Linked DNA regions of Homo sapiens. The protein of the gene in region 1 purifies or fractionates together with the protein of each later gene. This does not show direct contact. Each region holds a gene or a part of one and is shown on either strand. Other genes may lie near its edges. The genes, in order: BLVRA, OCIAD1, MAP2K1, PDK1, ACTR3, PCYOX1 and ACTR2.

Region 1 (4,249 bases):
ACTTTAAAGTAGACTGTGGTAAGTAAAATATATAATATAAAATCCTTAACTTCTGAAAAAGAGTTATAGCTAATAGCCAACAAATGGGATAAAATGGAATCATAATAAATATTCTAATTAATCCAAAATAAGGCAGGAAAAGAGGGGAAAAAGAACAGATTGAACAAATAGCAGGATTTCTATAGAATTTGAATGGAAACCCAACCATATCAATAATCACAATGTAAATTGTCTAAACGTTTCAACTAAAAGGCAGAGATTGTTAGACTGAGTAAAAAAAAGCAAGACCTAACTATATGCTGCCTATAAGAAACTAACTATAGCTATGAAAACACATATAGATTAAATGTGAAAGGTTGGGGAAAAAATGTATTATGCAACACTGATCAACAGAAATTGGGAATGGATTGTTAATATCAGACAAAATAAATTATAGGGCAAAAAATATTACCAGGAATAAAAATGGTCATTTTAGAAAGATAAAGGGGTCAATTAAAAAAAAGGACATAACCATCCTAAACTTGTATGTATCTAATAACAGAGTTTTGAAATATGTGGGTCAAAACTGATAGAACTGAAAGGAGAAATACACAGTTATATACAATTATATTCAGAGATTTCTCTACCCTCAATAATTGCTAGAGCAAGGAGACAGAAAATCAGGAAGGATACGAAGACCTGAACAACACAATCAACCAACTTGATCTAACAGACTTATAGAACACTCCACCCAACAATAGCAGAATACACATTCTTTTCAAGTGTGCCCAGAACATTAACCAAGGTAGACCACATCCCGTATCATAAAATATCTCAATAAATCTAAAAGGATTCAAATCATTTAAAGAATGTTCTCTGACCACAGTGGGATTAAATGAGAAATCAATAATAGAAAAACATTTGGCAAATCCCCAAACATTTGGAAGAAATCCTGGAAGGAGAAGACAAGAGCAGTGGGCACAGGAAGAGGGGCAGAGTCAGTGGGAAGTGGTGACAACTGGGTACAGAGGTGAAGAAAAGGGGCAAATCTGAGATGACATTCATGTTTCTATGCTCAGAGGCATCCAAGAAGTGAGTTTAAGGGATGCATGGAGATAATTTTTTTTTTTTTGAGATAGAGTCTCACTCTGTCACCCAGGCTGGAGTGCAGTGGCGCTATCTTGGGTCACTGCAATCTCCGCCTCCCAGGTTCAAGCAATTCTCCTGCCTCGGCCTCCTAAGTAGCTGGGATTACAGGCGCCTGCCAACAGGCCCAGCTAATTTTTGTATTTTTAGTAGAGACGAGGTTTCTCCATGTTGGCCAGGCTGGTCTGGAACTCCTGACCTCAAGTGATCCACCTGCCTCGGCCTCCCAAAGTGCTGGGATTACAGGCGTGAGCCACCGTGCCCAGTGCATGGAGATAAATTTTATCAGTTTTTATTATACTGAGTTGCTGTATAACTTAAAAGTCAGTTTGATTTTTCACTGTAATACTGTTCACATACAGCCTCCAGCAGTGCACTTAAATAATATTTAAGATACTGCAGTATCTTAAATGTGGAACTCAGAAGGCTGTAGTGAAGAGTCAAAGCCTCTGGATCCCACGCTGAGTAAGGTGACCAATCATGGTTTGCCCATTTGCCTCCTCTGCCAGCATCTGATGAAGAAGCTGTGCCCTCTGAATGACTCCCAGTAGTATCAGATTCATGTGTCCACTGGAGGAGGGACCCAGGGAGGGCAGAAGTACCAGGCCATGGGCTGGGTCTGGGTTAATGGGGAAAGCTCCCTCATTATTGGAGATGGGGCAGTAGAAGTGGAGAGCCAAATTGGGGGAACACTTTCTGTGGGTACTCGGAAGGTTTTCAACCTAAAGACATGGTGGAGCACCTTCAAGAACAGGTTTTGGCGGGACTGACTTCTCTCCAAGCCCCCATTTCGGGGACTGTCTCATCCCATCCTGATGCTGTGGCTTCCTGTGTGTTTTGGGCTGGCTTCCATCTTGCTCGTCGGGACCCTGCCAGCTCCTTTGTTTTGTAGTTTTCTGCTCGATGCCTACAGTGTTTTCAGACTCCACCTTGGTCCCTTGTGTTTCAGCCCGAGAGGAAGTTTGGCGTGGTGGTGGTTGGTGTTGGCCGAGCCGGCTCCGTGCGGATGAGGGACTTGCGGAATCCACACCCTTCCTCAGCGTTCCTGAACCTGATTGGCTTCGTGTCGAGGTGGCTCACAATGTCTTTGTGCTTCATAATTCATGGAAAGCCCAGTGAGGCGGATTAGCTGCAGGACATGGAGATTTTCCAGACCCAGGGCAGGGAGAGCCATCTCCCAACTGAGAACTGTGCTTAGGGTCAGCCCCATAAGATCTCAGGTTGGGATGGGTCTGGGAACTGAAGCTTGCTGGGCCTGCAGCTGGGATGCACAGTAGGTTGGCCTGGGAGACTGGAAGACAGAGGCAGGAGGGTGAGCTCAAGGCTGACAGTTAGAGAAGGGGCACAGAAAACACATGCATGGGGCTTTGGCCTGAAAGGCTTTCGGTGTGCACCGGGGAATCCTGACATAGTCATCATGACAGCCATCCTAGGTGGTCCTGGGCTCTACATGTGATATTTCCTTCTGCGTAGTGTTATTAACCCCCCAGTTTACAGATAAGGAGGCTGAACCACAGAAAGGTTAAGTAATCTGCCTGAGGTCACACAGCTGGAAAGTCTAAGAACTGAAGTTGAGCAGAAGTCTGTTTCCAAAGCCCATCTTTTAAACACCATGTGTTCTTTTGCCATTGGTAATTTTGAGCCTCACTTTTATTATTATTATTATTTTTTTTGAGACAGAGTCTCACTCTGTCACCCAAGCTGCAGCGCAATGGTGCAATCACAGCGCACTGCAGCCTTGACCGTCTGGGCTCAAGTGATCCTCCCGCCTCACAGCTCAAGTGGTCCTCCTGCCTCAGCCTTCTGAGTAGCTGGGACTACAGACACACACACCACCACGCCTGGATAATTTTTTTTTTTTTTTTGTAGAGACAGGGTCTCCCTATGTTGCCTAGACTGGTCTCAAACTCCTGGGGTCAAGTGATCCTCCTGCCTCGGCCTCCCAAAGTGCTGAGATTATAGGCGTGAGCCAGTGCACCCAGCCTCCCCCTTTTCTTTAAGGATTCATTTATCTCCAGTCAAAATCAAACTTATCACCTTGTTTCTTCTTCCCCCATGCTCAAATTTTCCACTCACCCCTGTACACACACACACACACACGCACCACTCACCAGACTAATCCTGTATAACATCATTTGTCAATATTAATTGTGAACTAGATACAGGCACCAGACTAATCCTGTGTAACATCATTTATCCATATTAATTTTGGACTAGGTGCAGGCACTGGGCTGGGCCTGAAGACATGGTAGTGAGCAAGTTAGGCAACTCTTTTTCTAGTGCTTTAGAGACATCAGATAAATATTTACACAAAGCATAAGTAACAATTGTGATAGTCTATGTAGAAATTTTTTCATGTTTTCATTCATGGGGCCATCCTCTTCCGGCCTGTCTCAAAACATGGCCCCACTTTTAAGGATTTAAAATGGGCTTGGAAGCACCAGGGAGACCCAGAAGTGCTAGAATCTGCCCTTGGGCCAGCCTTCTCCTCCCCATAAGATTCCAAGGGAGCTGCACACAAATGGGAGAGCAAAGTTAAGATCAGGCAGCACCGTAACCCCCATCGCACCCCTATCTGGAGCTGGGACCACACACAGCACTTGGGCGCAAGGCTGAAATGGGACCTTTCCTTTTCCCTTAAGCCCCAGTCCTCTGCCAGTTGGCTTCCAGGGTCAGCTCAGTGGGAACACCTACACTACCCAGGTTGTATGGGAGGATGGCCAGGTCACACCCCTGCATGACAGCCCTGCCAGTACTCACACTGTTTCCCTCTTCACATACCCTTCCCTTCCTGACCTACCTGCTAAGTTCTACCTCCTCCCCAGGAAGCTTTTCTGGTGTATTCCTTTCCCACCCTGAGTCTCCATCTCCTACTTCCAAGCACCACATTTCTCCTGGTAGTCTTGTGGTAGTGGTATGTACGTGTGTGTGTGTGTGTGTGTGTGTGTGTCTTCCTCTAGCTGACTGAGCTCATTGAAAGGCGATGATTTTAATTTGTTCTCCATGATTTCTCCTACAGCGCCTAGTACATAATAGGCAAACAATAAGTATTGCTGAAATTGAGCAATTTAGTTTGGGTGGCCCCATTAAAGAAACCTAGCATAATACTCTTTGGGAGCTAAAT
Region 2 (4,249 bases), on another chromosome or scaffold:
AATAGTAAGTCTTAAGACAGCAAGATTAGTTTAACACAGGGTAGAGACATACTCATTTGACTGTTTCTCTCTTACAACAAATCTCCTTGGAGATCTGATAGTCTTATTTTCCTAATGATACATCTATCGCATAAGTTGCTGTAGTGACCTGAGGTTGGCGTTGCGCTGTAATACCACTTGTGGCCTAACCACAGAATGATTGAGTAATGAGATTGATTTTCTTGTACATTTGGGTTTTTCTCGTGTTTTTTTGTTCTGTTTGTTTGTTTTTTCTTTTTGAGATGGTTTTATTCTGTCACCCAGGCTGGAGTGCAGTGGTGTAATCATGGCTTACTGCAGTCTTGACCTCCTGGGTTCAAGCAGTCCTCCTACCTCAGCTTCCTGAGTAGCTGGGACTACAGTTGTATGCCACCATCCCTGGCTGTTAAAAATTTTTTTTGGTGCAGTGGGTTTTTCCCTATGTTGCCAAGGCTGGTCTCAAACTCCTGGGCTCAACCAGTCCTTTCACCTTGGCCTCCCAGAATGCTGGGATTATAGGTGGGAGCCACTGTGCCTGACCTTTCTTGTACATTTGTGAATTTGAAAGAGTTATATGCCAGCTTCTAAGGCATTTCTTAAAGATGAATTTTTAAATCCTGGTTTCTTTTAAGTCTTTTTGGAATAGCTATACATTAGCCAAAGTAAATTTTTTGATACAAGTTTACCTCTAAAGGAAGAGGACATTCGAATAGGGTTTTATAGCTATTTCAGTATAGGGTTTTATGATTTTCTCTTAAGGAATTTCAGAGTATGTGTCATTGTTTCAAGATTTTCTATTTACTACTTTAAAAATGGAAATAATAGGTCTTTGGTACCTTCTTGAAGGTCATATGCCACAAAGAATGCAAAAATACATGAAAGTCCTTAGTATTTGTTGTTATGGTCATTTTTTAGAGCTAATTTTATTTTTAATCATTAGCGGTTGCTTCGTTTGGAGTTCTGTTTTTATAACAATGATAGATAATATCTGCATCATATTATTGATGTAAAAAAAATCTACCTTTGAAATGAATTAGGGATGTACCATACTTTTGAATGTTTGTCATCAAACAACATTTAGCATAAACTGCATCTAGTGGCCATTGCTCTGTAATATGTAAAGACTTGTCGGTACTTTGTCCTGCTAATTAATTTGAGGATTTAGATTGTAAGCTCTGTGAGGGCAGAAAGTAATATTTTTCTCATTTTTGTAATCTTTTCTATTATTGTCTGCATAGCATAGTACTTTACACTGTATCAGAAATTGAGTATTTTGGTTTAGGCTTCTATGGTAATAGAGGTTAAGAAAGGAAATTTGGTAGACCTTTAACATTTGCTGGATTTTGACATTTTTGATTTTTGACTGAAGTCTTCAAGTTCTGTTACATGACACAAGAATGTGAAATGATTTTTTCTTTTTTTGGGAAAAGCTGGTTTTTTGTGTGCTTTATATAATTTAAAGAAAAGACTTGTTATGAAATAGTTTCAGTCATTTTCTGAATTATTGTTGAAATTAGTACAGGGTAGATTCACATGGTCAGAAAGTGTCACTTAAAGTTTTCACCTTTAGCTTATGTGGTTGATATTTATCTAATTAGAAATTAAGACCCAGAAATTTAAAAAATTCAAGCACATATTCCATTAGCTGCCAGAGCAATGTCACCACACATCCTGTAGCTTCTAGAAAACCATGTAACATATACTCATGAGGGAATGAGAGCAAGGGGAAAAGGCAAAATGTGAAACATAAGGATATATAATGTCTTAGTATAATAATGAAATAATTTTGACTTCATGTATTCCCTGAAGAGTCCACACTGTGATAACTGCTGCTTTATATTGTTATGATTACTCACAGACAGAAGCTATGTGGAAGAGAAGCAAAAAAGTAAAGGAGTAGAATAGACAGCGGAGCATGTTTTAAAATGTAAAATATAGAGTACCTGTAAAATGTAGTAGTATTTTCTTCTTATAGTAGTATTTACAGCCCTGAGAGAGAAGATTGAATTAATTACAACTTGAACACTTGACCATTTCTACTGCTGTATTTTTTGTGAAAAACGAAAATTCAAATGTTTGTTTTATTATTTCCCACTATTTTTTTTTTTTTTTGTATATGGCTTAATATGTGCCACACTTAGGTAGTATGGTAAAGATGTAAAGGTACCTAGGCTTTGGATCTAAACAGACCTATACTCAAATCTCAGTTCTTGTTAGGGCTTGTACCTTGGGCAAGTTACTAATCTTTTTTCTCACCATTAAAATGAGAATTGTGTTTAGAAGTTTGTTATGAGGACTAACTATTTATGTAAAATTCTAGATACAATGCATTTGTCCAACCCCAAGTTCACAAAAGTCTGGTCATCCCCTTTTTGTAATTATAATTTGACTCTCATGTGCTTTTATTCAAATGAGAGAGAAACATAACTTTTCATCATAGCAACAAACTTAAAATAATGTCTTTTACTTATTATTGCTTGGAATCATCAATTATTTATGCTTTTTTCCTAGTCAAAGTAAACAAGTATGGAGATACTTGGGATGAGTGAAAAATTACATCATTGGACATGAAGGAGTTTCAACATCCAGCTTCATCTAGGTGGTCATGATTACCTGCATGCTTTGAGCTCAGCAGCAGTCTTCATAAACACATTTAAAACAAGATCCTGGGTTTTTGTGGTTTGACTTCTATGGTGTTTTAAAAAAACACAGATTTTTAGTGTTAATATTGTGTAAATGTACTCACCTTAGGGATTCATTTGAATGATGGTATTATACCATGATTGTATACAGTTTGTGAAATTGTTGCAAGGGCAAAGATAACTCTTAAAAAACCGTCGAGATTACAATGCTCTAGAATCAGCATATAAGAAAATAAATGATATCTGCATGTTGAATTGGGGTGGATGGGGGGAGCAAGCATAATTTTTAAGTGTGAAGCTTTGCATCAAGAAATTATTAAAAAGCTTTTTTTCTCCAGTATTTTCTGTATTATCTTAATGTTTATGGCAAATAAAATGTAAAGGAACATGCAACAGCCCTCATCTTCCTTGATTTTATGGTTTTATTGTTTGTAATTTATTGATTTATTTTTAAGCTAGTTATAATCATGTAGGTATAGGAAATAAAGTCATCTATAATATTTCTATAATATGGCTATAATATGGCTATAAATCTATAATATGGCTGGAGGCAGTGGGCAGTGGTTCATGCCTGTAATCCCAGCACTTTGGGAGGCCGAAGTGGGAGGATTGCATGAGTCCAGGAGTTTGAGACCAGCCTGGGCAACAAAGCGAGACCCTGTCTTTACAAAAAAATAAAAATTAGCTGGCGATGGTGTCGTGTGCCTGTAGTCCTAGTTACTTAAGAGGCTGAGTTGGGAGGATCAGTTGAACCCAGTGGTTCTGGGTTGCAGTGAGCTGTGGTCACACCACTGAACTCCAGCCTGTGCGACTGAGTGAGACCCTGTGTCTAAAAAAATAAAAATATAATGAATGTGATTTATGTAGATAAATTGATAATATAGTAAATAGGTAAATGCCTTAAAAAGCATTTTTAAAGAATTTGTAAATTCTAAAACAATAAAAATTTGGTATACATCACAGAGACTGATATTATGTTAAAAAGAAAAATTGGTGTACAGTGACCCTTCGTATCTGTGGGTTCCGTATCTGCAGATTCAATCAACTGCAGATTGAAAATATTTGAGGGAGAGAAATGGATGGTTGTCTGTACTGAACTCTTGTTATTCCCAAACAATACATTGTAATAACTATTTACATAGCATTTACATTAGGCATTACAAGTAATCTATAAATGACTTAAAGTATATAGGAGGATGTGCATTGGTTATATGTAAATACTACACCATTTTATAGTGGACGTTAGGAACCTGGACCAATAGACCCCCACCTAGTCACATTTTAGAAAGAACACATGGGATGGGAGATACCGCAGCCATCTTTCAGTCTATCATTTGGCAGCTGTAATTCACATCCCTTTCCTGAGGACCTCTGTTTCCTATGCCATTACAAAAGCTCAAAGTCTAGGAGCTGATCATCTAATCAGGATAAGGTATGGATGAGGCTCCTTGGGTAAAGCTTCATGAATAAAAGCGTCATGAATACCATTTCTCTGTCTGAAGGCCTGAACTTAAGAACTTATCTGCTTTGTTCACCTGTTAGGCATAACATCACTACTCTGGAGATTCCCATTCAAAAAGAGAAAAGGA
Region 3 (3,500 bases), on another chromosome or scaffold:
GGAGTTCAAGACCAGCCTGGCCAACATGGTGAAACCCTGCCTCTACTAAAAATACAAAAATTAGCTGGGAGTGGTGGTGTGCGCCTATAATCATAGCTACTTGGGAGGCTGAGGCAGGAGAATCGCTTGAACCCAGGAGGCAGAGGTTGCAGTGAGCCGAGATCACGCCATTGCACTCCAGCTTGGGCAACAAGAGCAAAACTCTGTCTCAAAAAAAGAAAAAAGAACTATTATAACTAAGTAGGGAGTGATGTAACTGAGCATGGCATGGAGTTGCTCAGAAAAGACTACACACATTGGAGATAAGCTTTATGTAAGATCTTGAAAGATCGGTACCATCCGGGGCAGATACGGTGTCTCACGCCTGTAATCCCAGCACCTTGTGGGGCTGAGGCAGGCATATCACCTGAGGTCAGGAGTTCGAGACCAGCCTGACCAACATGGTGAAATCCTGTCTCTACTAAAAATAAAAAAATTAGCCGGCCATGGTGGTGTGTGCCTGTTATCATAGCTACTTGGGAGGCCGAGGCAGGAAAATGTGGGAGGCGGAGGTGGCCGTGAGCCAAGATCATGCCACTGCACTCCAGCCTGGATGAGAAGAGTGAAACTCCATCTCAAAAAAACAAAAGGGCCGGGCACGGTGACTCACACCTGTAATCCCAGCACTTTGGGAGGCCGAGGAGGGCGGATCACGACATCGAGGCCATCATTTTTAAATTTTGTACTAAAAATACAAAAATTAGCCAGATGTGGTGGCGCATACCTGTAGCCCAGCTACTTGGGAGGCTGAGGCAGGAGAATCGCTTGAACCCGGGAGGCATAGGTTGCACTGAGGCGAGATCGCGCCACTGCACTCCAGTCTGGGGACAGAGTGAGACTCATCTCCAAAAACAAAACAAAACAAAAAAGATGGGTACCATTTATTTTATTCTAGGCCCCACAGCAGACGGTGGAGAAATACCAGTACACAAGACAATCACAGTCCCTGTTTTCACAGAAGTTAAAGTGTAGTGGCAAGTATAAAACAAAAATAAAAACATGCAAGAGGGCCAGGCGCCTGTAATCCCAGCAGTTTGGGAGGCTGAGGCAGTGGATCACCTGAGGTCAGGGGTTCGAGACCAGGCTGGGCAACATGGTGAGACGCCGTCTCTACTAAAAATAACAAGAATTAGCCCGGCGTGGTGGTGTGCGCCTGTAATCCCAGCTACTCGGGAGGCTGAGGCACGATACTCACTTGAGCCCAGTGGGCAGAGGTTGCAGTGAGCCAAGATCATGTGACTGCACACTCTAGCCTGGGTGACAGAGTGAGACTCCGTCTCAAAAAAAAAAAAAAAAAAATCATGCAAGAAAGTGGAGGAGGGCATTTCAGACAAAAAAAAAAACCATGTCAGCAAGACCAGACAGATGTAAGAAGGTAAGCAACAGTATGCTGGTGGCACAGTGAGGAGAGTAAAGAAAGTGGTAAGTGGACCACAGCAGGTGAACGGAAAAACAGAGGAAAATTAAGCTAGATAGGCAAGGCAGGGCCAACAGCTACAGGAGTACCCACTTAAATGTAGTTTTGCTTTGACAATTCCAGTTACCCACAGTGAGTACAGTAACCACATTCATGTAACTGTCATTACAATATATTGTTATAATTCTTTTTTATTGGTTATTATTGTTAATCTCTTACTATGCCTAATTTATAAATTAAACTTCATCATAGGCATATACTGCATAGGAAAAAACACAGTATATGCAGGGTTTGGTACTATTGATATCTGTGGTTTCAGGCATCCACTAGGGGTCTTGGAACATATGCCACTCAGATAAGGGAGGACTACTGTACTCTACCACAGTATCTTCTTCCTTTCTTTGAAAGGTGCATAAATAAGTGAAACTGGAATTCTGTGAGTGTTTATATTCAAACAAGAGTCCCATATATTTCCTTGCCATGGGCTAAATCATCTTTAAGACTTTCTTTGCTATTACTGTATCTGCTGTAACAGCGGCAGAGATGTTCTTCCCAAAGACACAGGCTTAAGCAGGCCTTTTTCACATGAAGCTGTTCTGAAAGACAGCACCAGTATTAGTTACTGCATCAACTACCCAAAAGAAGCATCCAAGTTCAAAACTACAAAATCAGTGTGAAACCACTTCAAAAGCTCCTACTTATCAGGCCAGACATGGTGGCTCATGCCTGTAAACCCAGCACTTTTGGGAGGCCAAGGAGGGAGGATTGCATGAGGCAAGGAGTTTGAGCCCAGCCTGGGCAATACAGCAAGACCCTATCTCTAAATTTTAAAATTAGCCAGGCATGGTGGTACATGCCGGTAGTACTAGCTACTTAGGAGGCTGAAGCAGGAGGATTCCCTGAACCCAGGAGTTCAAGGTTATAGTGAGCACCAATGCACTCCAGCCTGAGTGTCTGAGCAAGACCCTGTCTCTCAAAAAAAAAAAAAAAAAAAAAGTTCCTGGTTATCATCATGGTACACATCTCAGAAAGAGCCATAAGAGACAAAAAAAAGCACATCAACCTGTCTCAACCTTTCTTCCTCCAGGGCCTTCACACTCTAACAGATGTGTGTTCCTTACAAACCTGGCAGAACTGCTGATGCTATGAACTACACCCTGAATGCAATAAGTAAGTCTGAGTGTTTCAGGGTTACATAGAAACAATTCAAAATCCAAAATCATGAACGCTACTAAGGCCAAGCAGTGAACCCTCCTAAGGTTATTCGGCACCTTATAGCCTTCAAAGAAATTTTATACATCTTCAAAGGTATTCCTCTGAGGTAGGATCTAGTCAATCATTTAATCAACAGGTATCTACTGAGTATTTTCTATGTGCCAGAATCTGTTCTACACACTGAGCAATGAACAAGGCAAAGCCCCAACCATCATGAAGCTTACACTTGGGGTGGCAGAAGAAGATAAATACTTATACACGATGTAACATCAGTTAGTGATCAGCGCTACAAAGAAAAATAAGGCAAAATCAAAGGGTAGAAAATGACAGGGAGTTCTGTATTACAGTGATCAAAGATGGCCTCTGTGAAGAGACATTTCAACAGAGGGGTGAAGGAAGTGAGGAAGCAAGTCATACGGTATTTGAGAGACAAGCTTTCCAGGCAGCAGGAATGGCAAATGCAAAGATTCTAAGATAAGAATGTGCCCAACCTACAACCCAACAGCACAAAGGACAGTGTGGCTAGAGTGCATGAGTGAAGAGAACACTGGAAGAAAACTAAGGACCTGGTCAGGTAGGGCCTTGTAGGCCACCATGGTAAAGATTTTGTAAACAATTATCACCTCCACTTTACAGATTAAGGAAACCAAGAGTCAGAAAGTAGAAAGGACTTGCCCAAGGTCAAAGAAAAAGTGAGATCTTGAGAGGTACCCTGCCTCACTACTGCAACTGGATTAACGGTATTGTTTTAAAGAAAGAGATTAATAGCCGGTGCGGTGGTTCACACCTGTAATCCCAGCACTTTGGGAGGCCAAGGAGGGCAGATCAC
Region 4 (4,249 bases), on another chromosome or scaffold:
ACTTCACACTCACAATAATGTCTATAATAAAAAAGACAGACTACAATTGTTGACAAGGACGAGGTAAAACAGGAACCTTCACACATTGTTGATGACAATGCAAAATGGTGCAGGTCCTTTGGAAAACAGTTTGGCAGTTTCTCAAGTTAAACAGAGTTTCCTATGATTCAGCAATTCAATTCCTAGGTATATACATAAGATAACTGAAACACATGTTCACACAATAATTTGTACACAAACATTCATAGCCATATTATTTATAATAACCAAAAAATAGAAACAAACCAAATGTCTATCAACTGATGAATGGATAACCCAAAGGTGTTATATCCATATAACAGAATATCATTTGGTCATAAAAAGGAATGAAGTACAAATGCATACTATAACATTATACTAAGTGAAAGAAGTCAGTAACAAAAGACCACATACTGCATGATTAAATTTATATAAAATGCCCAGAAAGAGAAATACACAAACAGAAAATAGATCAGTGGTTGCCAAGGGCTAGAAGAGAGAAAAACGGGAAGTGACTTCATAGGTACTGCGTATTTTCCTTTTTTTCTTTTTTTCAGATGGAGTCTCAATCTGTCACCCAGGCTGGAGTGCAGTGGTGCAATCTTGGCTCACCGCACCCTCTGCTGCTGGGTTCAAGCGATTCTCGTGCCTCAGCCTCCTGAATAGCTGGGATTACAGGCGCCTGCCACCACACCCAGCTAATTTTTTGTATTTTTTGTAGAGATGGGGTTTCACCATGTTGGCCAGGCTGGTCTTAAACGCCTTACCTCAGGCAATCTGCCCAACTTGGCCTCCCAAAGTGCTGGGATTACAGGCATGAGCTGCTGTGCCTGACGGAGTACTTGGGTTTTTTCTTAGGACTGATGAAAATGTTCTAAAATGAGACAGCGGCAATACTTGAATAACCTTATGAATTCCACTGAATTGTACCTTTTTTAAAAAAGGAACAATGGATGCCTTCAAAATTTTGCAGGATGATTATTCTCAGCTTCGAATTTCATATACAAACTTAAATATTGGGATAATAGTATAGGGAAACTGGCCCTTGGGCTAGGGGAGGGGAGGGGAGCAGGTGCTCTATTAAAGAGAGCTAACTCCTCAACTACTATAACAGAAAGGTAATATTTACTGTTTAAAATGTAAACATTAGGCCAGGTGCAGTAGCTCATGCCTGTAATCCCAGCACTTCGGGAGGCCGAGGCAGGCGGATAACACGAGGTCGAGTTCGAGACCAGCCTGGCCAATATGGTGAAACCCTGTCTCTACTAAAATACAAAAAATTAGCTAGGCGTGGTGGCGGGTGCCTGTTATCCCAGCTACTCGGGAGGCTGAGGCAGGTGAATCACTTGAACTCAGGAGGCAGAGGTTGCAGTGGGCGAGATCACACTACCGCATTCCACCCTGGGGCAACAGAGCAAGACTCCATCTCAAAAAAAAAAAAAAAAAAAAAAAAAAGTAAAGAAAGACTAAGAATCTCTGAGTAATGAGGCCTACAAAGGGCCAGGAACTGACACATTTGAATTTTTATAGTCTCTGCATTTATTACTTTAATATAAATTTTTAAATGATTATTAAAAAAGAAAAACACTATCATACTCTTAAACTGGAGCCATGCACAGTGGCTCACACCTGTAATACTAGTGCTTTGGGAGGCCAAGGTGGGAGGATCACTTGAGGCCAGGTGTTTTGAGATCAGCCTGGGCAACAAAGTGAGACCTAGTCTCTACCCACCAAAAAATTCTTTTAATTAGCCAGGCTTGCATGCCTGCAGCCTGCAGTCCCAGTTACTCTGGAAGCCATGGGAGGAGGATTGCTTGAGCCCAGGAGTTCAAGGTCACAGTGAGTGATGATCACACCACTGCACTCCAGCCTGGGTGACAGAAAACAATTTTTAATAAAATGTAAAAGAAGAAACTGGGCCACCTGAACAATGTAATAGAAAAGGCCTAGCACTGGGGACAGAAGACTGGATATCATGTCCCATAGCATTTCTGCCCTGTGTGATCCTGAGCTAATCACTGTGTCTTAGTCTCCACACCTGTAAAAGTGAGGATAAAATTACCTACGTCATGAGAATCAAATGAAACCAGTAGATTAGAAAGCACTGTTTTAAAATTTTTTAAATTATATATAAAATACTATCTCCATAATACTGCAACTACCCAAATATTTTAGATCTTACTTATCAAAGAGATATTAATGATAAATTGTCTGTCTCCAAGATTTATTTTAACTTGAATCACCTCGACGGGGGACCTGCATAGAAAAGACTCAAGGGATAACTATAATCCACCAGCTCAATGAAGCAATGTGCTTATTATCTATTACAGACAAGATTCTTTTCCCCTGAGAGTAGATTATGTCTTTTAGAAATTATGCGTATGGTTACCTTTGCATGTCTGTTCATCAATTACAAAAAAAAAAAAAAGAAAACAAACCATTAAACACATTTACCTTCACAGTCAAATCCTCATTACCCAGCGTGACATGAACTTGAATAGGGGGGTAAACACCTCTGTTGGCATGGTGTTCCATAGTGGCTCTCATTGCATTCTGAAATACATTAGGGTTGTATTAAAAATACAGCTTTTTAGAAAAGAGAAAGTGTAATTTTCAAGTACATATGCACTATTTGAAGTTTTAAAATTTGATGGAAATATGCCAAAGAATCACAATTCTTATAACCACATTTAAAGTTTTTTTTTTAATGGAGTCAATTTGGGGGGGATTTGAAGGATATTCTGACCTAAAGACTCCAACTAAATTTTGCTTATTTTCCAAAGTCAGACTTCAAAACACTTTTAACTAGTTACATTAAAGCAGAAAACTCTGTTCAAACACTTTTATAATTTTAGTAAATGATGGGCAAAACATTTTTGAAAATGTAGTTTCAGCTATATTTTTAGAACTATTTAAAAAACTGTCATAAATTTCTTTAAAGGAAAGCAATTTTTTTCATATAGTAGTAACAGCGATGGTCGTATTTGATGGAGCAATGAATCCCTTTATCTCTAGTTTGAAATTAAGGGTATTGTCATTGTAAAGCTGCTTTGACTAATTTCTAAAGGAAATAGGGTACACAGTGCCAACATATCAGAAGCCTTAAACAATATCATGACATTCAGCATTGCAGTAGAAAATGATATAAACTAGATGTAACTAAAAAGGCATCCGAATTTGGAAGTAAGAGTGTGTGGCCCTGGCACAGCAATTGCGATTGAGTCCTCTTATGGAGGAGATTCCATCATTTCCACCAAAGGCAGGTTAAGATTAGGTTCCAGGTGAAAGCCATTATTACTGACATTATGTACAATATAATACGGAGTGCCTCAATCATAGGGCACAAGATCTTTATGCCACTGGAATTTCAAGGAAAAAATTCGTGTTAATGCTTGAAGTGCCCATCACTACTTGTTTAACTACTTGGATAAAAAGATTTTAGGGCTAGGTGCAGTGGTTTATGCCTGTAATCCCAACACTCTGGGGCAGGACTGCTTGAGGCCAGGAGTTCAAGGACAGCCTGGGTAACAGAGTGAGACCTCAACTCTACAAAAAATAAAATAAATATTTTAAAAAAGATTTTGTAAGGTATTAAATACATTTTTGCTGTCTTGGAAGAAAGAACATTCTGCTGCTGTTCTAAGATATTCGGTCAGTTTTTCTGTGTTTCAGTGCACTTTTCCTTTACATTATCAGATTGAAAGCCACCCCCTCTTTCCTCTAGTTTGCTGCTGGCTGATGAAACACAACTGAAGAGAGACTACAAGCTTCTGATAGAGGGCAATCATTTTCACCCACCAGGACCTGTGCCCCTCACTCCTCACCCATTTTCTTGTCAACCAGCAAGTATTATTGGCGGGGAAAAAAGATACTCTCAATATTAGTAGCATAATTTGTTTTCAAATTTTGTTGTAAAGAGCAAAGATTACAGCAGAAACCCTGTAAGTCAATATAAATGACCTCCCCCTCCCAAGAAAAGCCAGACCAAAAAAAGAATTCTGGTCCTTTGAGGGTAGCAAGTTGAGAATCACTCTTCTAAATATTGTTTTATAAAAACATAAAGATAACTCTATTGAGCACCTATATGTAATACGTTGCCACTGTACTGGACACTTAGTATGTTATTCCCAATAGTCATAAACAATCCTGGACAGTATTCTTGTTTTACAGAAAAGGAAACTGAGGCTCAGAGAGGTTGAGTGACTTGCCCAAGGTCACACACATATTAAGA
Region 5 (4,249 bases), on another chromosome or scaffold:
ATGGCCAGGACAGGCAAATCTAACACAGACAAAAAGTAGATTCGTGGTTGCCAGGGGCTGAAGGAATCAAGGGGAAATGGGTGGTGACTGTTAATAGTTACAGGGTTCCTTTGTAGGGTGATGAAAATGTTCTAAAATTGTGGGGACGGATGGACTTTGTGAATATACTAAAAATCAATGAACTGTACACTCTAAAGAAGTGAATTGTATGGTATATGAATTTTATCTTAAGCTATCGTTAAACAATGGCAGTTATTACTAAAACCATTATGACATATCATGAGGGTGAAAGTGGTGGAGGACCAGGAGTCTAATCCAAAGGTAGTCACCCTGAGGATGTAATCTTTAACAGACATTGCCTGATGCATTAAACACTGGAGTGAGAATAAAAAAAAAAAAAAGTTCAAAATAATGTAAATCCTTAAGTGATATTCATTATAATATAAAAATTACTTTAAAAGATAAACCTTTCTCTATATACCCATTTAATAATAAACAGTATGAATTCTAGTAGTCATTTTGAATTCATTAGGCATAATTTTTTTAAAACTTGATGTATCATTAAGAACTGAAGCACAACGGCCTTGGAAGAAAAATGTTATTTCTGACAATCTAATTTGATGCATTTTTCTTAATATGCTTTATTAAGTACAAACCATAAAGCATCTACTAAAGTTCAGGTACTTAAAACTAACTGTTATACAGTTACCCTGTACACCAGTCTGAAATCTGTTAATTATGAATAAAAGAGGTCATCAAATGGCTAACACACATCCAACTGGAAAACAGAATGAAAGCCATTAATATACTTCCATTCCAGATATTGCAATTTGTAATTTTCTTAATTGCAGTACAAACCTACAGTAAAAGAAACATTTTGAATTGTTTATAAAAGTTTTAAACGGTGAGCAAAACATAGCTATAACTGGACAAATGGCCAAATTATAGTGCAGCATTTAAAGTTTTTTAAAAGTAACATTAATTCGTATAATTTAACTTTGCCAGATGTGTTATTTCATGTTCTGTTCAGTAACTGTAAAATAGCCTTACCACAGGAATGACATGAGTGACACCATCTCCACTGTCTATTACCGTACCGGTCAACGTCCGTTCTCCTACTTGTCTTGAGGTCCAAGATGCAGCTAAGGCAAGAACAGCCTTGAGCACAAAGAAAGAAGAAAGGCAAAAAAACAAAAAAAAAAAACAAAAAAACAAAGAGTTAATCGAAAAAAAAAAAACTAGTTCCCTGGAGTACTTTATTCAATTTTAAATGTAGTATCTGTGGAAAGAAAATACATAAAATTAATTTTGTATTATGCAATAAAATAGCTCACTCCCTACATTTTATTAAGACAAACTTAGAGGTTTACATTTGCTTTTAGGAGCATGATTTGTAAGATTTACATATTTTATAAAGGCTATTTCTGTCCTAAAGCTAAAAATGTGGAAGATTGCATTAAACAGTACAGAACTAACTGTCTGTAATCCCAGCACTTTGGGAGGCCGAGGCGGGCAGATCACGAGGTCAGGAGATCGAGACCTTCCTGGCTAACACGGGGAAACCCCGTCTCTACTAAAAAATACAAAAACTTAGCCAGGTGCGGTGGCGGGCGCCTGTAGTCCCAGCTACTCAGGAGGCTGAGGCAGGAGAATGGCGTGAACCCGGGAGGCGGAGCTTGCAATGAGCCGAGATCATGCCACTGTACTCCAGACTGAGCGACAGAGCAAGACTCCATCTCAAAAAAAAAAAAAAAAAAAATTGTATAGAACTAACTTGCCAGAACTTAAACTATGTCCACGTGGGCTGGCCTGTTACAAACTGCAATGTAAGGCAGAAAGTACACAACCACCCTACCTCCAGTTATTCAATACATATATGGCTATAAACAACTATTACTAAAAGATTACCTTCTTTTTCTTTTTTTCTTTGAGACAGAGTTTCTTTCTGTCACCCAGGCTGGAATGCAGTGGCACGATCTCGGCTCACCGCAATCTCCGCCTCTTGGGTTCAAGCAATTCTCTGCCTCAGCCTCCGGAGTAGCTGGGATTACAGGTGCCCACCACCACACCCGGCTAATTTTTGTATTTTCAGTAGAGACGGGGTTTCACCATCTCAGCCAGGCTGATCTTGAACTCCTGACCTTGTGATTCACCTGCCTCAGCCTGCCAAAGTGCTGGGATTATAGGCATGAGCCACTGTGCCAGGCCTACCTTCAAATTTTTTTAAGGTAACATGTGTTTAGGACTATATGACATACAGAAAACGCCATCGCACACCTCCAAATACTACTATGATTTAATTATGGAGCAACGTTGATAAAATTTTTCTATGAAAAACCTTGGTACAGACAATACAACACAATTCTTTTTTAAGTGTGAGAATTAAGAAATTAACATAGTTCATTTTTTAAAAAACTAAATTTCTTACAATCCAAGCCTCAAACAAAGTATATGACTAGTAATTAAAAACAACTAAACTTATACTGGACTTATTTTACCTACCTGGACTGTAATAGCTAAAAGGGACCTAGAAAGCTATCTAGGTCACCCTCCTATCTGAACACAAGATCATATTAACACAATCACCACATAATCACTATAGGCTAACAGAACTATACATTATTTTTTGACAATCTTAAAATGAAAAATTCCATCCTAATACTAGTTATATATATATATACTGTTTAGACTTCATTATGAGATATCCTTCCTCTATAAGTAAGTTCAAAACTATCATCTACAACCAAGAATTATCTCTGATCACTTTTACAAGTCTTTTGTAAACAGTTACGGTCCCAAACTAGAATAGATATGTATCAGCACATCATGTTACAGAAATGTTATTGACTACTGAACATCAACAAAACAGAACAGAGATTAAATAATGAAATTAAGAGCACTCAGAGGCCACTAAGGAAATCACTGAAAAACCAAATTACGACTCCAGAGGAATGAAACAAAGCTCATGATGCCAGTGTTTTAAAGTAAGCTTTACCTGACAATATGGTTAAACATAAGTTTATTATATTTAACATAGGATGAGAAGCAAAAACTCCCAAGTGAAAGATGAATTTTCCCAACTCCTCATTTTATTCATATTCTAAGAACTAAAAAAGGGCCTCCCACTCAAGACTGAATTCTTCTATAAAGTTCATGACAGGTTTAAGTGACTCCTTAAATATTTTTAGCAGCAGAGAATTTAAAAGGCAGTTCATTAAATTTATGGATTGCATTAAACATTAAAAAGTTCTTTGCTATCCAAGTTAAAATATTCATCCATAATTATCACTTATTGATTCTGTGTACCGTGGAGTTACAAAAACCAGTGTGATCCCAAGAAAGAGCAAAGTCAGACAGACCTCAGCTGCCTGGTATCACAGCTAACCATTTAATTATGAATAAAGTGCCTTCCAGCTTTAGTTTTCTTCCTCCACAAAAAACAGAAACAAAAATATCTACATTTAATAGAAATAATGAATTAATACACATATAAAGCATTTGTGTTATGTCAGGGATTACCTCTGCTACAAGGGAAAAAAAAAAAAAATGAGGTCAGCTCTGATCCTGAGGGGTGGGAGAGAAGCTGTTCCATACAGATAAACGTACAAATTAAGAGAAGTGAAATATTAGGGTGTCAAATATACCTAAAGATAAGTCAATCAAAAAAGACTACAATAAAGGACAAAAAGATTTATAAGGATAAATGATAAAGGATTATTTACAAGGATAAATATATATACAATGTTCTTGTCACAGAGAAAGCATTCCATAAATATTAGTTCCTTCATTTCTGTCCTATGAAAGCCCTTGAAATACCCAAACACCACTAACTTACTTTTTTAACACTTCTCTTTTCCTGACTAAATATCTCCACTTCCCATAATATTACTTCTAAATTAACAATTCAGGAGAGAAGTATAACATGCTTTGACATTATGTTTAAACCTTTGCAGAAAAAAAAAAAAAGTACGTATTTTAGGCAGCAAATTAAACTAGGTTAAAATGTAAGAATCAAACTTAGAAAGTATGAACTTGCTTACCTGCACAGCAATGTACAAGCCTGGAACATTGAAGGACTCAAACATTATTTCAGCAGTATATTCCCTGTTTTCTGGAGTATTCAATGGAGGTTCAGTCTATTGAAATAAATAACATTTTAAATAGATAATATCAGATTATTTTGATAACTTTCTTGACAATTTTTAAATGAGAAGTAATTTATTTCAAACATTTTATTTAAAATGCATTA
Region 6 (4,249 bases), on another chromosome or scaffold:
TGAGAAATTAAGAAATTACTTTTTTTTTTTTGAGATGAGTTTCACTCTGTCACCCAGGCTGGAGTGCAGTGGTGCAATCTCGGCTCACTGCAACCTCTGCCTCCTGAGTCCAAGCGATTCTCCTGCCTCAGCCTCCTGAGTAGCTGGGATTACAGGCATGTGCCACCATACCCAGATAATTTTTTTATTTTTAGTAGAGATGGGGTTTTACCATGTTGGCTAGGCTGGTCTCAAACTCCTGGCCTTAATTGATCTGCCCGCCTTGGCCTCCTAAAGTGCTGCGATTACAGGCATGAGCCACCGCACCTGGCCTAAGAAATCACTTTTGAAGTGAATTCAAGGTATTACAGAACTGGGAAAAAGAACCAGTGAGGGGATACATAGGTTATACTGTTTTTGACTTTAAAAAATAATTTACGGGCCGGGCGCGGTGGCACACGCCTGTAATCCCAGCACTTTGGGAGGCCAAGGCAGATAGATCTTGAGGTCAGGAGTTCGAGACCAGCCTGGCCAACATGGTGAAACTCCGCCTTGCTAAAAATACAAAAATTAGCTGGGTGTGGAGGCGCAGCTAATGCCAGCTACTTGGGAGGCTGAGGCAGTAGAATCGCTTGAACCCAGGAAGCGGAGGTTGTGGTGAGCCAAGATCAAAGTATACACAAGGTGGAGAAAGACCTATGTAACAGTAGTAAACCATGACACTCGAAAGAGGGCTCAAGCTTGTGGTAGGCAATACTCGAAAACAGTGCATTCATTCATTCTCTGCTGTTGGAGGTACTTGAGTGGAAATCCTGCAGCCCCTGACATCAGCACTAGCTAGCTTAATTTCCACTTCTGCACATACATTTATGTAGTTGTTCTGGTTGGATGCCATTCTTAACTAATTTTTTTTTTTTTTTTTTTTTTGAGACCAAGTCTTGCTCCGTCACCCAGGCTGGAGTACGGTGGTGCAATCACAGCTCACTGCAGCTTTGACCTCCTGGTCTCAAGTCATCTTCCAGCCTCAGCTGGGACTATAGGCATGTGCCATCATGCTTGGCTAATTTTTTAAATTTTTGTAGAGACAGGGTGTTGCCATGTTGCCCAAGCTGATCTTGAACTCCTGGGCTCAAGTGATCCTCCCACCTTGGCCTCCCAAAGTGTTGGGATTACAGGCGTGAGCCACCGCGCTCAGCCGGATGCCATTCTTTACTCCCAAGTCCAACCTCTTATCTCACTTTTTCAGCAAAGCATTTCCTTAATGCTTCAATCAACATTCATCTTTCTTTTCAAACATCCCTTATTATACGGTGCACACTGTGTGCTTGTGTTCTATGCTACGCACAGTAACTAGAATGTAGTAGATGTTTACTCAGATGTTTGTGGAATTTAAATCTCTGGTCTGCTGATGGCTTCCTGTTGAGATATCTTGGCTTGTAGACTAGGTTAAAGCTTATTCTTCTCTCTCAAGTTAGTGCATTTCTGGGGACTTGTAAGATCCTTAACACTTCTTGATCTGAGACTGATAGACTCACAGGGAAAGGCTTTATAAACACCCTTTCTTCCTTCCAGTTACTCCTACCAAATATTTTGAGTCAATTTTTGTTCTTTCATTTCCCAAACCCACTCTATCTTGAATCCCATCAGCCTTTAAAATACATCCAGTATTCCACTACTTCTCTCCAGGATTACTGCTACCACTTTGTTCCAAGTCACCACCACTGTCTCTTGTCTGGATTGCTAGAGTAGCCTCCTATTATAGGCTGAATAATCCTCTCCCCTGCTGTCTGCCACAAGATGTCCATGTCTTAATTCCTGGAACCTGTGAATGTGTTACCTTTTGAGGTAAAAGAGACGTTGCAGATATGGTTAAGGATGGGTAGATTATTCTGGATTATCTAGGTGGGCCCAATATAATCACAAGGGTCCTTAGAGAGGCAGGAGGATCAGGGTAGGTAGTAGGAGATGTGATGATGGAAGGAAGAGATTGGAGTGATGCTAGGAAGGGGTGTGCGTCCACGAGCCAAGGAATGCAGGTGGCCTGTAGAGGCTGGAAAAGACAGTCTTCCCTCAGAGCTTCTAGAAGGAACCAGCCTTGTGCACACCTTGATTTTAGCCCGGAGAGACTGACTTTGGTCTTCTAATTTACAGAACCGTAAGATTATAACTTTTTTTTTTTTTGTTAGTATTTATTAATCATTCTTGGGTGTTCTTCGGAGAGGGGGATTTGGCAGGGTCATAGGACAATAGTGGAGGGAAGGTCAGCGGATAAACATGTGAACAAAGGTCTCTGGTTTTCCTAGGCAGAGGGCCCTGCCGCCTTCCGCAGTGTTTGTGTCCCTGGGTACTTGAGATTAGGGAGTGGTGATGACTCTTAACGAGTATGCTGCCTTCAAGCATCTGTTTAACAAAGCACATCTTGCACCGCCCTTAATCCATTTAACCCTTAGTGGACACAGCACATGTTTCAGAGAGCATGGGGTTGGGGGTAAGGTCATAGATAAACAGCATTCCAAGGCAGAAGAATTTCTCTTACTACAGAACAAAATGGAGTCTCCTATGTCCACCTCTTTCTACACAGACACAGTAACAATCCGATCTCTCCTTCCTTTCCCCACATTTCCCCCACTTCTATTCGACAAAACTGCCATCGTCATCATGGCCCGTTCTCAATGAGCTATTGGGTACACCTCCCAGACGGGGTGGCGGCTGGGCAGAGGGGCTCCTCACTTCCCAGACAGGGCGGCTGCTGGGCGGAGGGGCTCCTCACTTCTCAGAGAGGGCGGCTGGTCAGAGAGGCTCCTCACCTCCCAGACGGGATGGCGGCGGGGCAGAGACACTCCTCAGTTCCCAGACGGCGTCGCGGCCGGGCAGAGGCGCTCTTCACATCTCAGACGGGGCGGCGGGGCAGAGGCGCTCCCCACATCCCAGACGATGGGCAGCCGGGCAGAGACGCTCCTCACTTCCTAGACGGGATGACGGCCGGGAAGAGGCGCTCCTCACTTCCCAGACTGGGCGGCCGGGCAGAGGAGTTCCTCACATCCCAGACGATGGGCGGCCAGGCAAAGACACTCCTCACTTCCTAGACGGGGTGGCGGCTGGGCAGAGGCTGCAATCTCAGCACTTTTGGGAGGTCAAGGCAGGCGGCTGGGAGGTGGAGGTTGTAGCGAGCCGAGATCACGCCACTGCACTCCAGCCTGGGCAACATTGAGCACTGAGTGAGCGACACTCCGTCTGCAATCCTGGCACCTCGGGAGGCCGAGGCTGGCAGATCACTCATGGTCAGGAACTGGAGACCAGCCCGGCCAACACGGTGAAACCCCGTCTCCACCAAAAAATACGAAAACCAGTCAGGCGTGGCGGCGCGCGCCTGCAATCCCAGGCACTTGGCAGGCTGAAGCAGGAGAATCAGGCAGGGAGGTTGCAGTGAGTCGAGATGGCAGCAGTACAGTCCAGCCTTGGCTCGGCATCAGAGGGAGACCGTGGAGAGGGAGAGGGGGAGGGGGAGGGGGAGAGGGAGAGCTGTTTTTTGTTTTGAGACAGAGTCTTGCTCTGTCACCCAGGCTGGAGTGCAGTGGCACAATCTTGGCTCACTGCAGCCTCCGCCTCCTGGGTTCAAGCAGTTCTCTGCCTCAGCCTCCCGAGTAGTTGGGATCACAGGCGCCCACCACCATGCCCGGCTAATTTTTGTATTTTTAGTAGAGATGGGGTTTCACCATCTTGGCCAGGCAGGTCTTGCACTCCTGACCTCGTGATCCACCCGCCTCAGCCTCCCAAAGTGCTGGGATTACAGGTGTGAGCCACTGCACCCGGCCGTAAATTTGTGTTGTTTTAAGCCACTAAGTTTGTGGTAATTTGTTATAGCAGCAGTGGAAAACCAAGACACCTCCTAAATCATCTGCCATTACTGTTATATTGCTACCATTTGTTCTCAGGTTAGCAGCCAAAGTAGTTCTTTAAAATCTAAGGCTCATCACATCACTCCACTAACTCAGAAACCTTCAGTGGCTATTTCATTAATAGAGATTTATAGCCAAAATCTGTTTTGTGACTGAGAAGACATGACAGGATTCTGTGCTCTCATCCCTTACTTTTAAATTTGTTTTCCCCAAAATTCATAGGTTGAAACACTAGCCACCCAGTACTCAGAATGTGACTGCATATGTATGTAGGGCCTTTAAATATGTGATTAAGTTAAAATGAGGTCTTTAGCGTAGACCCTAAAACAATTTGATGGGTGTCCTTAAGATTAGGACACAGAAAGGAGGCC
Region 7 (4,249 bases), on another chromosome or scaffold:
AATCTCCTTCTGCTGGCTCCTCCTATCTCTCTGGTCCTTGGCCTTTTCACCACTGTCTACCCTCTTCTTTGTTGAACCGTATCATTTATAGCCCTACCTTCAAAACAGACCTATAATCTGGTAATTTCTCACTATCTCTACTACTACTACTTCAATCCTAACCATCATTATCTTTTGCTTAAATGACTGAAAAAGTCTCCAACTCTTCTATCTTTGCCTCCTTGTGGGATACTCACAACACAAGAGAAATCTAAATCTGAGCATCTCCTTTTCCTGTAACAGCCCCATATTTCACCCACAGTAAAAGCCCAATTCCCTTTTTTTCTTTTTGAGACTGAGTCTCACCCTGTCGCCCAGGCTGGAATGCAGTGGTGTAATCTCGGCTCACTGCAGCATCTGCCTCCTGGGTTCAAGCGATTCTCCTGCCCCAGCCTCCCAAGTAGCTGGGATTACAGGCACGCACCACTATGCCCAGTTAATTTTTGTATTTTTAGTAGAGATGGCGTTTCACTATGTTGGTCAGGCTGGTCTCGAACTCTTGACCTCGTGATCCGCCCACCTCGGCCTCCCAGAAGTGCTGGGATTACAGGCCTGAACCACCACTTCCAGCCGCCCAATTCCTAATTAGAGCCTACAAGGCACCAATATTACTTACTCGACCTCATCTTCTGTTGCTCTCTCCTCAACCACACTGGCTTCCTTGCTTATTCTTTAATATACCAAGCTTGTTCCTAACTTAAGACCTTTACACTGGCTACTCCCTTTATCTGGAATACCATTCTCCTATATACCCTGGCTAACTCACTTACCCTGTCTGTTTAAACATCACCTTCTCACAACCTATGTACAATTACAACCTCCCACTCCCCGTTAACCTGATTTATTTTGCCTTTAGCATCTACAGCTGATCCATGAATAACAACAAGTTTGAACCACACAGGTCCACTTATACACGATTTTTGTCAATAAATCTTTCCTGCCTCCCCTTGCACCTCTTCTGTCTCTGCCACCCGAGACAGCAAGACCAACCCCTCCTCTTCTTCGTCGGTGTGAAGACAATGACGATGAAGATCTTTATGATGATCTACATCCACTTAAGGTATAGTAAATGTATTTTCTCTTATGATTTTTTATTTTTTTTTGAGACGGAGTCTCGCTCTGTCGCCCAGGCTGGAGTGCAGTGGCACGATCTCCACTCACTGCAAGCTCTGCCTCAAGGGTTCACGTCATTCTCCTGCCTCAGCCTCCTGAGTAGCTGGGACTACAGGCACCCGCCACCACGCCCGGCTAATTTTTTGTATTTTTAGTAGAGACGGAGTTTCACTGTGTTAGCCAGGATGGTCTCGATCTCCTGACCTTGTGATCTGCCCGCCTCCGCCTCCCAAAGTGCTGAGATTACAGGCGTGAGCCACCGCGCCCGGCCATGATTTTCTTAACAGTATTTCCTCTAGCTTACTTTATTGTTAAGAATATAGTATATAATACATATTATGTTATCAGTAAGGCTTCTGGTCAACAGTAGGCTATTAGAAGTTAAGTATTTTGGGTGGTAGTTAAGTTTGCACGTGAGTAGGGAGGGTTGGTGCCCCTAACCCCTGCATTGCTCATGGGTCAACTGGATCACTCACCTTCTAACAAACCATTTAATTAACTCTGTAACTGCTTATTGTATTAGCCTTTTCAGTCTCCTTCTGCTGGCTCCTCCATAAAAACTTAATTAACTTAATTAACTCACTAAATTAAAAACTTAATTTTTTTGGTCTGTTTTTCCCTGTTAGAATATATACACTCCATGGCAGTAGGATTTTTTGTTTACTGATCTATCCTACTTTCCTACTTAGAATAATGACTAGCATATAGTAGATACTTAATAAGATCTGAAGGAAAACAATTATTTTTATTCTCTTTATCCATAGCAACAGTAAGAAAATTTTTGATTTAACATAATATCACAGAAATACACATATGCATATCCTGCATAAAAACTCACCTCTACAATCTTCTCTCTGTTTTTGGTTGGGTTCATAGGAGGTTCTGTGAGTAAGATTTTACAATTTCTGGTATCTATATTAAGTTTCTCTGGTCCAAATGTGTAGTCCCACAGGTGTTTCATGTCATCCCAATTTCGTACTATGCCATTTTCCATAGGGTAGTTAACTTCTAACATTGATCGTAATTCACTTGCCTCATCACCAACCATAAGATCCTAGAAAATTATGTCAAAGCTGTAGATCAAAGTTTTGCATAATATTTAAGAAAACTTGGGAATAATTAATTTTAATATTTCTGACACTTGCAAAATAAATCTTTTTATTCCACAAGTTAGAAAATCTTTTCTATCAAGAACAATGTCTTAGAAAGTTTAATCATGGATAATACATTTTTACATACAATGTGGTTTAAATCAATAAATTGACCTTACCTTTAACACAAATGTTTCCAAAAGAAGAGCATTAGCACAAATAAACCCCACATTTTCATATTTTGGAGGGTTTTGTATGAGGTTTCATCTGTTTCTTTTGCTCAATTGTTCAAAAAATAAGGCCTGTGATATGTGAAATAGCACATCAGGGGGAAAAAAACTTGTAGAAAAATGCTCAATGCATGCAGCACATTTCTTTGCACTAAATATCAAAATGATAAATGTAAGTACTATAAAGCATAATGAAAGAAGCAAAAAATAAAATGATTCTTTATTACTCTATAATAATGCATACATACACCAACTAATAAATAGCACAAACTTCTATCTACATATGCCTGAATAAGAATTTAAACTGTTTCTACATATGCCTCACCAAGGTGAATGAGAATTTGTAGAGTTATAAAAAATTAAGATATAGGCAAATAACCCATCCTTTAAAATTGTCTCCTGAGCAACATTTTCAATCTTAAAGTATACTGGAAAACTACACCATCACACATGAAGCATAATACTCACAAGTCTTGTCTCCAATGAGAGCATACTTAAGATGACCCACATTTGAAAGTCACATTTTCTATATATAATAAGTAAGGATGTCCTAGCATTTAGACTTATTTTTAGAGAACAGCTAGTCAAGAGGTTAAATAATACTAATTTCTACATATGTTGATAAATTCAATTAAAAAAACTAGTATCAGAAGTAGATATTTGCTACAATACGTTAAGTTTTAATTATGGAGAGACAAAAAAAAGCAGCAGCAAAATTAACACGAGATTATTTTTTTGAGACTGAGTCTCGCTCTACTGCCCAGGCTAGAGCGCAGTGGCATGATCTCAGCTCACTACAACCTCTGCCTCCCAGGTTCAAGCGATTCTCCTGCCTCAGCCTCCTGAGTAGCTGGGATTACAGGCACCTGCCACCACGCCTGGCTAATTTTTGTATTTTTAGTAGAGATGGGGTTTCACCATGTTGGCCAAGCTGGTCTCAAACTCCTGACCTCAAGTAATTCACCCATCTCGGCCTCCCAAAGTGTTGGGATTACAGGCATGAGCCACCACACCTGGCCAACATGAGATGTTTTAAAACAAAGGCTTAAAAATATATGAGTTTTAAATTAAAAAAAAAAGAAAAAGAAAATATCAGAGATGAAACCAAGGTGAGGACTCTAACAAAAAACCAAACAGATCTCTGGAAAATCCACTAAAAGCATCAAAAAGTATAACAAAGTTAAAAACAGATGCTAGAAATGCTCAGTAAAAATTTGTTGCAATTTCTTATGAAGTTCATTTACCATAACTTACTAACTTATTACTCAAATATCTGAAATATTAAATGTTTACACTCTTTTTTTTTTTTTTTTTTGAGATGGGGTCTCACTCTGTCACCCAAGCTGGAGTGCAGTGGTGCCATTATTGCTTACCACAGCCTCAACCTCCCCAGGCTCAGGTGATCCTCCCACCTTAGCCTCCCAAGTAGCTGGGACTACAGGCTACATGCCCAGCTAATTCTTGTATTTTTAGTAGAGACAGGGTTTCACCATGTTGCCCAGGCTGGTCTTGAACTCCTGGGCTCAAGGGATCCGCCCACCTCAGCCTCCCAAAGTGCTAGGATTATAGGCATGAATCACCACACCCAACCGTTTAGATTCTTCTATGAGGAATATGCAAAACTAAAAATCTGTATTTGTGAATTCTAGTTAATAACATGCACATGTTGAAGTATTCAGGGAGAAGTATACTGGTATCTGCAACTTACTTTGAAATCCATCAAAAAACAAGATGCACTGATGAATGAACAGATGAACAGATATGTAATAAATCAGT

The links.
Region 2: the proteins of BLVRA (region 1) and OCIAD1 purify together in Homo sapiens (affinity purification with mass spectrometry, with the first as the bait; one large-scale study listed by BioGRID). This does not show direct contact.
Region 3: the proteins of BLVRA (region 1) and MAP2K1 purify together in Homo sapiens (co-immunoprecipitation; one study listed by IntAct). This does not show direct contact.
Region 4: the proteins of BLVRA (region 1) and PDK1 purify together in Homo sapiens (affinity purification with western blotting, with the first as the bait; one study listed by BioGRID). This does not show direct contact.
Region 5: the proteins of BLVRA (region 1) and ACTR3 fractionate together in Homo sapiens (co-fractionation; one large-scale study listed by BioGRID). This does not show direct contact.
Region 6: the proteins of BLVRA (region 1) and PCYOX1 purify together in Homo sapiens (affinity purification with mass spectrometry; 3 studies listed by BioGRID and IntAct, with this or other methods). This does not show direct contact.
Region 7: the proteins of BLVRA (region 1) and ACTR2 fractionate together in Homo sapiens (co-fractionation; one large-scale study listed by BioGRID). This does not show direct contact.

Annotation. Positions count from the first base shown.
Region 1 is NC_000007.14:43,785,830-43,790,078, forward strand, and holds part of BLVRA (biliverdin reductase A), read left to right. Parts: intron 1-2,074; coding exon 2,075-2,196; intron 2,197-4,249. UniProt on the Homo sapiens protein: Reduces the gamma-methene bridge of the open tetrapyrrole, biliverdin IXalpha, to bilirubin with the concomitant oxidation of a NADH or NADPH cofactor. Does not reduce bilirubin IXbeta.
Region 2 is NC_000004.12:48,858,196-48,862,444, forward strand, and holds the end of OCIAD1 (OCIA domain-containing protein 1), read left to right. Parts: intron 1-1,961; exon of another isoform or gene 1,962-2,008; intron 2,009-2,529; coding exon 2,530-2,567; 3' UTR 2,568-3,620; downstream 3,621-4,249. UniProt on the Homo sapiens protein: Maintains stem cell potency. Increases STAT3 phosphorylation and controls ERK phosphorylation. May act as a scaffold, increasing STAT3 recruitment onto endosomes. Involved in integrin-mediated cancer cell adhesion and colony formation in ovarian cancer.
Region 3 is NC_000015.10:66,393,412-66,396,911, reverse strand, and holds part of MAP2K1 (dual specificity mitogen-activated protein kinase kinase 1), read right to left. Parts: intron 1-3,500. UniProt on the Homo sapiens protein: Dual specificity protein kinase which acts as an essential component of the MAP kinase signal transduction pathway.
Region 4 is NC_000002.12:172,569,048-172,573,296, reverse strand, and holds part of PDK1 ([Pyruvate dehydrogenase (acetyl-transferring)] kinase isozyme 1, mitochondrial isoform 2 precursor), read right to left. Parts: intron 2,572-4,249; coding exon 2,473-2,571; intron 1-2,472. UniProt on the Homo sapiens protein: Kinase that plays a key role in regulation of glucose and fatty acid metabolism and homeostasis via phosphorylation of the pyruvate dehydrogenase subunits PDHA1 and PDHA2.
Region 5 is NC_000002.12:113,931,188-113,935,436, reverse strand, and holds part of ACTR3 (actin-related protein 3), read right to left. Parts: intron 4,137-4,249; coding exon 4,041-4,136; intron 1,159-4,040; coding exon 1,051-1,158; intron 1-1,050. UniProt on the Homo sapiens protein: ATP-binding component of the Arp2/3 complex, a multiprotein complex that mediates actin polymerization upon stimulation by nucleation-promoting factor (NPF).
Region 6 is NC_000002.12:70,264,315-70,268,563, forward strand, and holds part of PCYOX1 (prenylcysteine oxidase 1 precursor), read left to right. Parts: intron 1-4,249. UniProt on the Homo sapiens protein: Prenylcysteine oxidase that cleaves the thioether bond of prenyl-L-cysteines, such as farnesylcysteine and geranylgeranylcysteine. Only active against free prenylcysteines and not prenylcysteine residues within prenylated proteins or peptides.
Region 7 is NC_000002.12:65,244,481-65,248,729, reverse strand, and holds part of ACTR2 (actin-related protein 2), read right to left. Parts: intron 2,207-4,249; coding exon 1,991-2,206; intron 1-1,990. UniProt on the Homo sapiens protein: ATP-binding component of the Arp2/3 complex, a multiprotein complex that mediates actin polymerization upon stimulation by nucleation-promoting factor (NPF).